3 linked regions of the Homo sapiens genome follow. The protein of the gene in region 2 purifies or fractionates together with the protein of the main gene of each other region. This does not show direct contact. Each region holds a gene or a part of one and is shown on either strand. Other genes may lie near its edges.

What was found.
Region 1: the proteins of PPP1R16B (region 2) and GRK2 purify together in Homo sapiens (affinity purification with mass spectrometry; 2 studies listed by BioGRID and IntAct, with this or other methods). This does not show direct contact.
Region 3: the proteins of PPP1R16B (region 2) and PPP1R7 purify together in Homo sapiens (co-immunoprecipitation; 3 studies listed by BioGRID and IntAct, with this or other methods). This does not show direct contact.

Annotation. Positions count from the first base shown.
Region 1 is NC_000011.10:67,279,932-67,283,581, reverse strand, and holds part of GRK2 (beta-adrenergic receptor kinase 1), read right to left. Parts: intron 2,851-3,650; coding exon 2,799-2,850; intron 2,490-2,798; coding exon 2,398-2,489; intron 2,124-2,397; coding exon 2,024-2,123; intron 1,933-2,023; coding exon 1,854-1,932; intron 1,761-1,853; coding exon 1,630-1,760; intron 1,312-1,629; coding exon 1,217-1,311; intron 1,148-1,216; coding exon 1,040-1,147; intron 831-1,039; coding exon 764-830; intron 455-763; coding exon 354-454; intron 1-353. UniProt on the Homo sapiens protein: Specifically phosphorylates the agonist-occupied form of the beta-adrenergic and closely related receptors, probably inducing a desensitization of them. Key regulator of LPAR1 signaling.
Region 2 is NC_000020.11:38,920,584-38,923,561, reverse strand, and holds the end of PPP1R16B (protein phosphatase 1 regulatory inhibitor subunit 16B isoform 1 precursor), read right to left. Parts: 3' UTR 538-2,978; downstream 1-537. UniProt on the Homo sapiens protein: Regulator of protein phosphatase 1 (PP1) that acts as a positive regulator of pulmonary endothelial cell (EC) barrier function. Involved in the regulation of the PI3K/AKT signaling pathway, angiogenesis and endothelial cell proliferation.
Region 3 is NC_000002.12:241,153,433-241,157,082, reverse strand, and holds part of PPP1R7 (protein phosphatase 1 regulatory subunit 7), read right to left. Parts: intron 3,608-3,650; coding exon 3,479-3,607; intron 2,066-3,478; exon of another isoform or gene 1,819-2,065; intron 1-1,818. UniProt on the Homo sapiens protein: Regulatory subunit of protein phosphatase 1.

The sequences.
Region 1 (3,650 bases), on a different chromosome or scaffold from region 2:
TCTCAAATGGGAGAACAGAAGTTCCTACATCGTAGGGTTGTGGGTTTTAACACTGGTAAATTTTGCAACCCTATGCCCAGTGCTTAATAAATGTTTGATAAACATAAAAAGCTGCTATCATCATCATCTGTGACAAGGGCCCCTCTGGAAGCCAGTTACTAGCTGGTTCCAGCAGCTCCAACTCCCAGGGCAGCCCCTCCACTCTGAGAACATTGGACAGGGCTGGCCATGCCCCAACTTATGAGCTCCTCCAAGGAGGCTGGGACCTTGGAGGGGGTTCCAGGTGACGGGACACAGCCCTTGTCCTCATGGGGGCACAGCCAGCAGCATGCCCAAGGCGCCAGGGTACTCACCCTCGGCCCAGGCAGCCCAATCTCCGGTTGACATCCCTCTGCAGCAACCCCTCCAGCAGGGAGCGTAGTTCAGGGGAGAAGGAGTCGGGCAGCTCCACGGCCTTTAGAGAGGAGTGGGACATTAGCAGGGGCTTAGGAAGAGCCCTTGACCCCATCCCAGCTCAGGGGAGAGAGGGGTCCAGGCCCCCGCAGAGGGACAGATGGGGCACAGCATCCTAGCTCGCCCAGCAGTCATGCTCCAACAGCACGGGGAGGGCGAGAGCCTATGGGGCAGGAGGTCTGTCTCAGAGGCCAGAGTAGGGGTCAGTGGCCCAGATCTCTGCTGGCTGGTGGGAAGCAAGAGTCATGGCCTGGCACCCACAGGAGCTCCCCCCAGCCCCCTGCGGCCCTGCACTGAGACCTGCACCCACCATCGTCAGCGTCATGCGGTCGATCTCATGCTTGTCTTTGGTCTTGTGCTGCCGGAAGGGGCTGTGCCTGGGCAAGAAAGGCCAAAAACCAATGTCAAAGGACAGGAATGGGGAAAGGGAGGCAGGCAGCATGGATGAGCTGTGGCCAAAGTCAGGGACGGTGCCAACCCTACCACCAAGGCAGCTATGGGCTCCCCTCCTTTGGCATCCCACCTGGATTGGGGAGGAACTTCTCTTAGCCCCAACCCACCTGCCCACCTGGGATGGGCCACTCACCCCCGCAGCAACTTGAAGAGCATGCACCCCAGAGAGAACCAGTCGGCACTGCTGTCGTAGGCCACGCCCTTCTGCAGGACCTCCGGAGCCATGTACCCGTGGGTGCCCCTGTGGGAGCAAGGGGGCCATAAGCGGGAGTGGCAAGGGGTGGGGAGGGAGAGGGTGGGGGGCACTCACACGCTGGCATGGGGCTTCTTCTTGGAGAAGTCACAGGCCAGGCCCAGGTCCGAGATCCGCACGTGGCCATGCTCGTCCAGAAGGATGTTGGCTGGCTGTGAAGGAAGCCCAGTGAGCTGCCTGGGGCAGCTCAGGATGGGGCCCAGCCAGGCAAGATGCCAGCTGGGTCACTGCTTCACTGGAGAGGACGATGGGTACCCAAAGAAAGGGCAAAGGTGGGGGTCCTCTCTCCTGTCCCCAGCTACAACCTGGACCCAGAGAGTGGCTCGGTGGGAAGGGCAGGGGCGGAGATGGGAAGATACGGGGCGGCCATGTCCCAGGAGCCCCACTCCTCTGGGCCTGGTGGCCGGGATGTCGAGAGGAAGGAGAGGACAGCCACGGAGGTCCAGCCTGGGGACAGCAGGGGCGCTCACCTTCAGGTCCCGGTAGACCACGAAGCGGTTGTGCATGTGCTCCAGGCCCAGGATGATCTCGGCCGCATAGAAGCGCATGTCAGCCTCTGAGAAGACCCCGTGCTGGGAGAGGTGGTAGTGCAGGTCCCCACCTGAGGGAGGCAGTCCCACAGGCAGCACTCAGTGTCTTGCCCCAGCCTCCCGTGCCTGGGCCCGGCCCACCCTAGGGCCCGGCCAGCACTCACCGTTCATGAGGTCCAGGATGAAGCTGAGCTTGTCTGGCGTGTGGAACGCGTATGACATGCAGACAATGAATGGGCAGTCCTAGGAGGGGAGAGGAGGGGAGGGGGCGGGCAGTTAGCAGGGGCGCCCGGGGTTCCAGAGCCTCAGCGGCAGCCCGGCCCACCCAGCTCACCCCAGTGCTGACGAGCGAGAGCATGATGCGCTCGTTCAGGGCCAGGGTCTCCCCCTGCTTCATCTTGATGCGCTTTTTGTCCAGGCACTTCATGGCGTACCTACGGGGCAGAGGTCGGCAGTCAACACCCACCCTCAGAGCAGGGGCCCAGGGCTGCCTCAGGGGGCGCTTGAGGGAAAGACTAGACCCAGGACCAGCGTGTGACACAAATCAGAGACAGGGAGGGCTGGGGCCAGAGGAGCCTGCGGGGGTAACAGCACGGCAAGACAGGAGTGCATGGAGCAGCAGGTGGCCCTGTGTGGAACCCGGCCTGTCAGGGTCCCCCAGGAGCCCGGCTCCCCGAGGTATCCCACCGCGCCGAGCAGGGTGCTCACATCTTGCCTGTGTCAGCCTTCCGGCACCCATAGACCTCGCCAAAGCCCCCGCGCCCAATGATGCGATGCACGCTGAAGTCATTCATGGTCAGCTGAGGGGCAGCGACAGCTGCGGTCACCACAGGCTGCCTCTGCCCAGCCCTGGGGCAGAGGCACCTGGGCAGCAGGGGCTGGCCCCATGCCAGGGTCCCCATACCCATGTCCTGGCCATCCTTGCCACATATTTACCTGCTCCGGCCTCCCCATGCTGGGATCCCGGCCCTGACCCCCATAGCCACGGCCCTGGGGGCTAAAGGACAGACATCCCCTGACCTCCCCCTCCCAGCCAAGCCACAGGCCCAGCTCCCGGGAGAGGAGCAGCAGGGTGCGTGGCTTTCCATGCCCCACCCAAGCCCACTCACGTGGATGTTGAGCTCCACATTCTTCCACTGGCAAAACCGTGTGAACTTATCGCTGGAAAAGAAGAATCAGGGCTCAGGGGCCACTCAGAATGTGGGAAGGATGATGCTGTCGTGAGCCTCCCCACCCAGCCGCCACTCCCTGGGGTCCCGTGAGGGTAGGTGTGGAAACATCACGAGCGTTAATGTCCTCTTCCAGGAAGGATATGTTGAGGGCCTGCCCGCCCACAGCACCAGTCAGGGCTGCTTGGGTGCCCAGCATGGCCCTCGGCCACCTGGCCGTGGCTTCCTGCTGGAATCAGATCCGCACAGAAAGGAGGTCTTCCAGTCTAACCCAGACTTCCTGCTACCATATCCTTGACAAGTACGTCTCCTGTCCCTGCTTGCATACCCCCAGTGACACAGAGCTCACTCCATGGCTGGGCAGCAGTGACCCTAAAACAGCTGCTCCCTAAAGCTGGCTGAAATCTACCTACAATTCCCACCCACCGCGCCAACTCTGGCTGTGAGGGTCACGGGGGCCATGCGCTCTACTGGGCCTACCCCTACCAGGACTCTGATGCTTCTCAGTCCAGGTGGGCCAGCAAGGTGCTATACAGCCCACGGGAGAGAAAGAGGCACAGGTGGCACAGCTCTCCTAGCTCCCTGGAGCTAGGAGACTGCCTGGGATGGGCTTTGAGCTGCCTGGTGCTGAGGAGGGCAGGGTGGGAGATGACCTGCAGCCTGTCTGACTTCTCAGGAGTCCTTGCAAGGGGGCCGCTGACGGGCCAGCCACCTGCCTGCTCAGGGCCTAATGAAGGCTGGCTTCTGCCCTCCACGCCAGCCATACCCCTTCTGAGAGCGGCCCCTCCCTCC
Region 2 (2,978 bases):
ACAAAAAATTAGCTGGACATCACGGCGAGCGCCTGTAATCTCAGCTACTTGGGAAGCTGAGGCAGGAGAATTGCTGGAACCCGGGAGGCAGAGGTTGCAGTGAGCTGAGATCACGCCACTGCACTCCAGACTGGGTGAAAGAGTGAGGCTCCATCTTAAAAAAATAAAAATAAATAAATAAATATCAGGAAAAACTTTGAAAATGTATGGAATAAATATATGCTACTATACGGCCTCATGTTAATTTCAAAGAGATTATTTGACAGAATGAAGGTCATTCCCAACCACCCACCTTTTCTTGAATTCATCAGTTTTCACCATCTCCTAGTCTGGGGAGACATCTGCTCCAGGTCTGAGCCCCCAGAGCTCCCTCTATTTCAGGGGTCTCATGGGAAAGCCCTCTGTGGGAAAGGGGTGGGGTAAGGGGGAAGAGACTAGGAGCTCTCACCCACCCTCTATTCCAGGAACCTCCTCTTTGTGAATTCAAGTCAGCACTGTTCAAGTGAGCTCACAGCAATAATCACTCACACTAGCAGGTGTTATTAAAAGGAATTTAATAATTTTAATTAAAAACTCTTAACAGCGAATTCTGTCACAGGCCTTGGCAGCTGGAAGCAACTCCAGGGACATGTGCCCCCTTTGGGATGTGGCTGAGCCACAGTTTTGGACCCAAGGCCCACCGGTGCCGCGTGGCAAGGGGCTACGTGGAAGTTACCTCAGTACGATATCAAAGATCTGCGAAGATTTTTTTTAAAAAAGTTTTAAATATATTAGACTCTCTTGATTGCCATTTTTACACAAAGCTGCTGATACAGTATACAGAGTTTTAATTTTTTTTCACATAAAATACATTTTTTTAAGTGTTCTCTGTACACCAGTGGCTTCTGGTCTGGTGAATTATTGCGGAGGGCTGGGGGTCTGCAGACTTTTCCTGGGTGTGCAGAGCCAGGCCCCGCACGGTGGCACTTGCAATGCCCATGGGAAGCAGGCCCTCTGGCCAACAAGAGAGACCTGTTGGGGAGAGGGCTATAGCTTCTGGCACAGGGGGTCACTTTTGCAGAGTCATCCACTGACCATTGGAGCCTTTGCTCTTATGTGCCCTGGGGCAGGGGAGACCATCCCCAAGTTACAAATAGCAAGAGTTAAATACAGCTTTTCTGGGCATCTTAAAAGGAGCACCCTTCTTAAAAGTACCCCAGTATCCTGCTCTAGGAGAGAGAGCAGGTAGGTGAGAGAGCTCAGGATGGGAAGGTATCTGACACCAACAACCACAATGGTCTTATGTTATTACAAAGCCAGCAAACCGGTGGGGCAGGACAGGGGACACACCCTTGTTAGCTTTTCTAAGCCCCTTGGAAATGGATTAAACAGTGCAGAGCAGTTTTACTTATGCTGTATATTTGATGGAGAATTCTATCCTGAAGTCTTTAGTAGCCCTGGGCCTAGAGTTTATTCAGCTTCCCCAAGCTACTTGCCAGAAACTCACAGTCTGGTGATAACCGCCAACTTTCAGTTGTTTGGGGCATATGATGGTGAGCCATGCAGCACCTGCTTTGGAAGTGGTCTCCTTTAATCTAATGAGGAGCTGCCATAGGACCTGGGTCTCAGCAGGAGCTAGGCATCTGGTTGACTTTGCCTGGTTACTCCCAGCTCCCGAATCCACCCCTGCCATGGAGGGAGGCAGATTCCCAAGGAAAGGCTTTGATGCTGAAGGAAGCAGCAACTTTTCCTCCCATTATCCATTAGTGGGGTGAGGGGACTATGTAATAAATGAGCCACCATGAGCAAGAAACAATGACTTTAAAAACCTGAGATGCATTTGGCAGCAAATTGCAGAACAGTCTTCTAGACACTGATCTCAAGCTGCTATTATAGAGTCCCCCAAAGATGCTGGCTGAAGGCAGCTATCACTGAAAGTTCCAGATGGACCTGGATGATGTCTGCCTGGAACCCAAGATCCAGCATCTATACTTGGTGGCAAATGTTATCCAGGGGTGACCATGACAGCTGTTCCCAGCTAAAGGAATTCAGACTCTAAGGATTCTAGGAGCCGAAAAGCAAAGGGTCGCTGGACGAAGATGCAGACACTTTGCCTCAGGTGACTTGAATGGGACTGCTGATGCCTGTGGTCCCCAAGGGACGGAAACCACAAGGAACAGTTCTCCTGACTCTGTCTTATTCCTCCTTTATCCGCAGAACCTAACGTAGAGGCTGGCATGTTGCAGCTACTCAGTAAATTACGTGAGTGAATTAATGAATGACCGCGGCTCATTCATTGGAGGTTGGTCTCCAACTTGTCTCTCAACACCCAGGAGACCTACAGGGAAAGCTCCCCAGGGACTTAAAGCCCCAAGAAGGGATGGTTTATCCCTGGCTGAAAACATGAGCCAATGCCTGAGAGTCACCTGTGTGTGAAGTCGGCTCCTGTCAGGGAATCAGCTGGGATTCCCAGCCTTCTGGGTGGAGAGGAATAGCCCAGGAGGCAGGAGGCATGCGGAAAAGGAGGGAATGGCCTCAGGCGCTCAGTGGGTTGGGCAGTACGTGCCTTCAGTGTTTGGCCCCTGAGCAAAAAGATCGGAAAACCTAAACAGCTCTCTCCTGAGGAGCACGCGGCTTCCCTCAGAACTCCCTACCTTGTAGCTAAGGTTGGCTCATGAGGGATTTCAGCGTCAGTCTGGGCTCATACTGTTTTACAGCCAATGGTACGTGTGTTTTAGATCATCCTGTCCTGTTCCAGCCACAGCCTGAGATGTTGAAGAGCCCACCCCAAATGGCAAGGTCGTGGGAAGCATCTGTGCACCTGTCTTCAGCCTCCTGGGCCGCCTCCACCCCTACTCTAGAATACATCTATCCTGGCATTGGGGTGGAGGTGGCCTGATGCTGAGAACCTCTCCCCTTCCAGCAGCCACCAAGGGTGCAGTCACTCCCATGGGCCCTCTACTTTCTGGTCCAGCCAGCTGCCCTGCTCCTGGGAAAGC
Region 3 (3,650 bases), on a different chromosome or scaffold from region 2:
CTCCCTGCTGAGGCGACAGCTTCCCTGTTAAGCACTTCCTCATTTCATTTCATTGGAACCTACTTCAGCATGTGTGCTGAAAAGGACTAAGACACACACAGATGCACACACACACGCATGCACAAAGACACACAGGCACGTATGCACACTACACAGACACACGCATGCACAACAGTGGTATACACAGACTCATGCAGACACACAAACACGCACACTCACCCCTCAAAACACTTAAAAAAATTAACAGTAATTCCTCAATATCACCAAAGATTGTCAGTGTTCGTATTTCCTCAACTGTCTTAACATTTCTTTCCTTAGTTTACTTGCATTATGATCCAAATAAGGCTGTATATTGTGACTAGATGGTATTTCTCTTTTAAAAAACTTTTTTAAATTAATTTTTTTTTAAGAGACAGGGTCTCACTCTGCTGTTCAGGCTGGAGTATAGTGGTGTGATCATAGCTCACTGCAGCCTTGAACTTGTGGGCTCAAGCAATCCTTGTCTTAGGCTCCCAGGAAGCTGAGACTACGGGTGTGTGCTACCATGCCTGGCTAATTTTTTAAAACCATGTTTTGTACAATCAGGGTCTCGCTATGTTGCCCAGGCTGGTCTGGAACTCCTAGCCTCAAGTGATCCTCCCACCTTGGCCTCCCAAAGTGCCAGGATTATAGGCACGAGCCACTGCACCCAGCCCAGCATTTTTCTTAAATTTCTTTTTTCCCCTTGCAGTTTTCTGTTGTAGGAAAACAAGCTGTTTGTCTTGTAGTGCTTCTCCCAGTCTGGAGTCTGTGAATTATATGCATAGGATGTTCTTTCTCCTGTAAACAGATTGTCATTGTCACTACCTTACAGGGCTGTCAGTGCTGTTACTGTGGCTCTTCCTAGAGCAAACGTGCACTTGCTTCTGCAGGGGAGTGAGCTCACACAGCCCTGGACCCCATGCCAAGGGCTGGCTCCTCCAGCCTGGCTCCTCCTCTCACCTGGAGGCCTCTGAGAGGAGCACCTGACATCAGACCAGCTTAACAAAGTCATGATCCCACATGGTTGCATTCACTTCATTGTTTTCCACTATGCCTTTTCTATAACCATCAACTGTGGTTAGTTAAAAAAAAAAGTTTACTATAGTTTATCCACAACTGTAAAGGATACCAACCTAAGAATTAAATAAAAGGAACTGGGCAAAACCAAGAGATAGATAACAAATCACCTCAAAAGACAGTGTCAAGTCACCGTTCATAAACTCAGGAAGTTGCACTGGAAGAGGTGCTACAATTAAGGCAGGGCGCCCAGGTCATGTAGTCCAAACCAGGACCCTTTGAGAGCAGAAGGGCACAGTTATGCTGGGCCAGCAGGCAGAAACGGGCTGTGCCAGGCTCCTCAGGACACACGGTCGCATGGCTTTAAGGGGTCTTGTTTGTAATACAGCCAGCAGGGCTGGCCGCTCACCACTCAAAATGTCAGCTAACCTCTGAAACAAGGTTTCCAGCCTAGAATGCCCTTCTGAGTGTATTATATATTCATCATATTTTAAAAATAATTTAAGGAAAATAGGTAGAAGGTAACAGTTGACATGATTAAATTTGTTTTAATTGAATTTAAGACTTAAATAAATACAGGTAGGAGCAAGTCTTGGCTCCTCTAAGGGCTAGAAATGCATATTCCCAGAAAATTCATAATCAGCTAATCATCTCGAAGAAAAAACTTGGATTTTTCCAGGCCAGGCCAGCTGGTCTGCCTTGTAGCCGTGTGCCCTTGGACAAGCTGCAGAGAGTCTCATTTTCCTCATCTATAACACATTACCACACTGGTGTACTTACAGAACATGATGACAACATGATTAGCCTGTGCTAGTGAGCCAGGGAAAGAAAGCACACAAGGCTTGCTCTGCCAACTCTCAAGTCCTCCATAAACACCCAATGTCTCAGCAGCACCCATCTGAGGATAGCGGGGGCTCCTACCGCTCCACTGTTGGTGACTAAGTCAGGCGATGACGGAAGCTTCCATCTATCACTCCCATGCACTTTATTCCACCCACATCACTTCCAGAACATCAGCCTCAAAGTTCCAAAGTGAATGTGACTGGTACTTTTGTGGTAATCTCCTTGTGACTTAAAAGTAGGTTGCCATAGTTACCAATCATCTTTGCTGGCACAGAGAGCACAATGTTATTTTAAAAATTAGGTTTGTTTCTTCATAAATTTATTTTCATAAGGGATGCATGATTATTCATACACTGTATACAAATCTAGAAAACACAAAATGTATAGATCCTTCTTAAACCTGCTGTTTGGACAGACTCAGCCCGTTTGATGTGTTTTCTTTCTTTAGCAGGTAAAAGTACATACATGCATGCATACTGTTCAGAAACTTTTTTGTTTTGAGATGGAGTCTCATTCTGACCCCGGCTGGAGTGCAGTGGTGTGATCTCAGCTTACTGCAACCTCTGCCTCCCTGGTTCAAGCGATTCTCCTGCCTCAGCCTCCTGAGTAGCTGGGACTACAGGTGCACACCACCATGCCTGGCTAATTTTTCTTTTTTTCTTTTTTTTGTATTTTTAGTAGAGACAGGGTTTCACCATGTTGGCCAGGCTGGTCTCGAACTCCTGACCTCAAGTGATCCACCCGCCTTGGCCTTCCAAAGTGCTAGGATTACAGGCGTAAGCCATTACGCCCGGCCACATCTAGGCACTTTAGAAGTCAATCCTCAGGCCTATAAAAATGGTAAGGCAAGACTCAGAAATAATTTCTCTCAGAGATTAAAGGTTTCTATTGCTATGGTAGGACATAGAAACACAGCAGTCAGCCATAACATTTATTTCGAATCTCATTTCCTAAACATATGGTTAATATAACAATATTGCGGTTCTTTTCTTTTTCCTTTTTTTTTTTTTTTTTTTTTTTTTGAGAAGGAGTATCCCTCTGTCACCTAGGCTGGAGTGCAGTGGTGTGTTCTCGGCTCACTGCAACCTCCACCTCCTGGGTTCAAGCGGTTCTCCTGCCTCAGCCTCCTGAGTAACTGGGATTACAGGCACACGCTGCCACGCCCAGCTAATTTTTGTATTTTTTGTAGAGACAGGGTTTCACCATGTTGGCCAGGATGGGCTTGATCTCCTGACCTCGTGATCCACCCGCCTTGGCCTTCCAAAGTGCTGGGATTACAGGCATGAGCCACTGCATCTGGCCAACAATGTCATGGTTCTGTCTCAGACGGCATACTAGTACCCATATTTGTGCTAGGATTTGCCTTCAGTGGAATTGGAAAAAACCACATCCTTTTTGCAAACGCCATCAATGAGTCAGCCTGCTGAAGGAGCACCTCAAAGAGCATATCCACCTGCCCTGGGCCACTGAGGACCCCTAAGGAGCACGGCAGTCCTTCTCCAGACCGACACAGCACCCACACCCAGGGCCAGACCACGTGCAGCACAGCCCACATCCCCCAACCAGCAGATGTCCCCAAGGGAGCTGGGCCTGGTACCTTCTGGGTCCTCCTCCCCCCGCTCCTCCCCATCCTTCAGGCTCTGTTCACTGAGGTCGGCCACGATGCCACTGCTGTGTTTCTTCCCTTCTTCATCGCCGGATTCTTCAGACTCGACCCGCCTGTCAACTGAACCCACACATGTCAATGAGAATTCACATCCACTTTATGG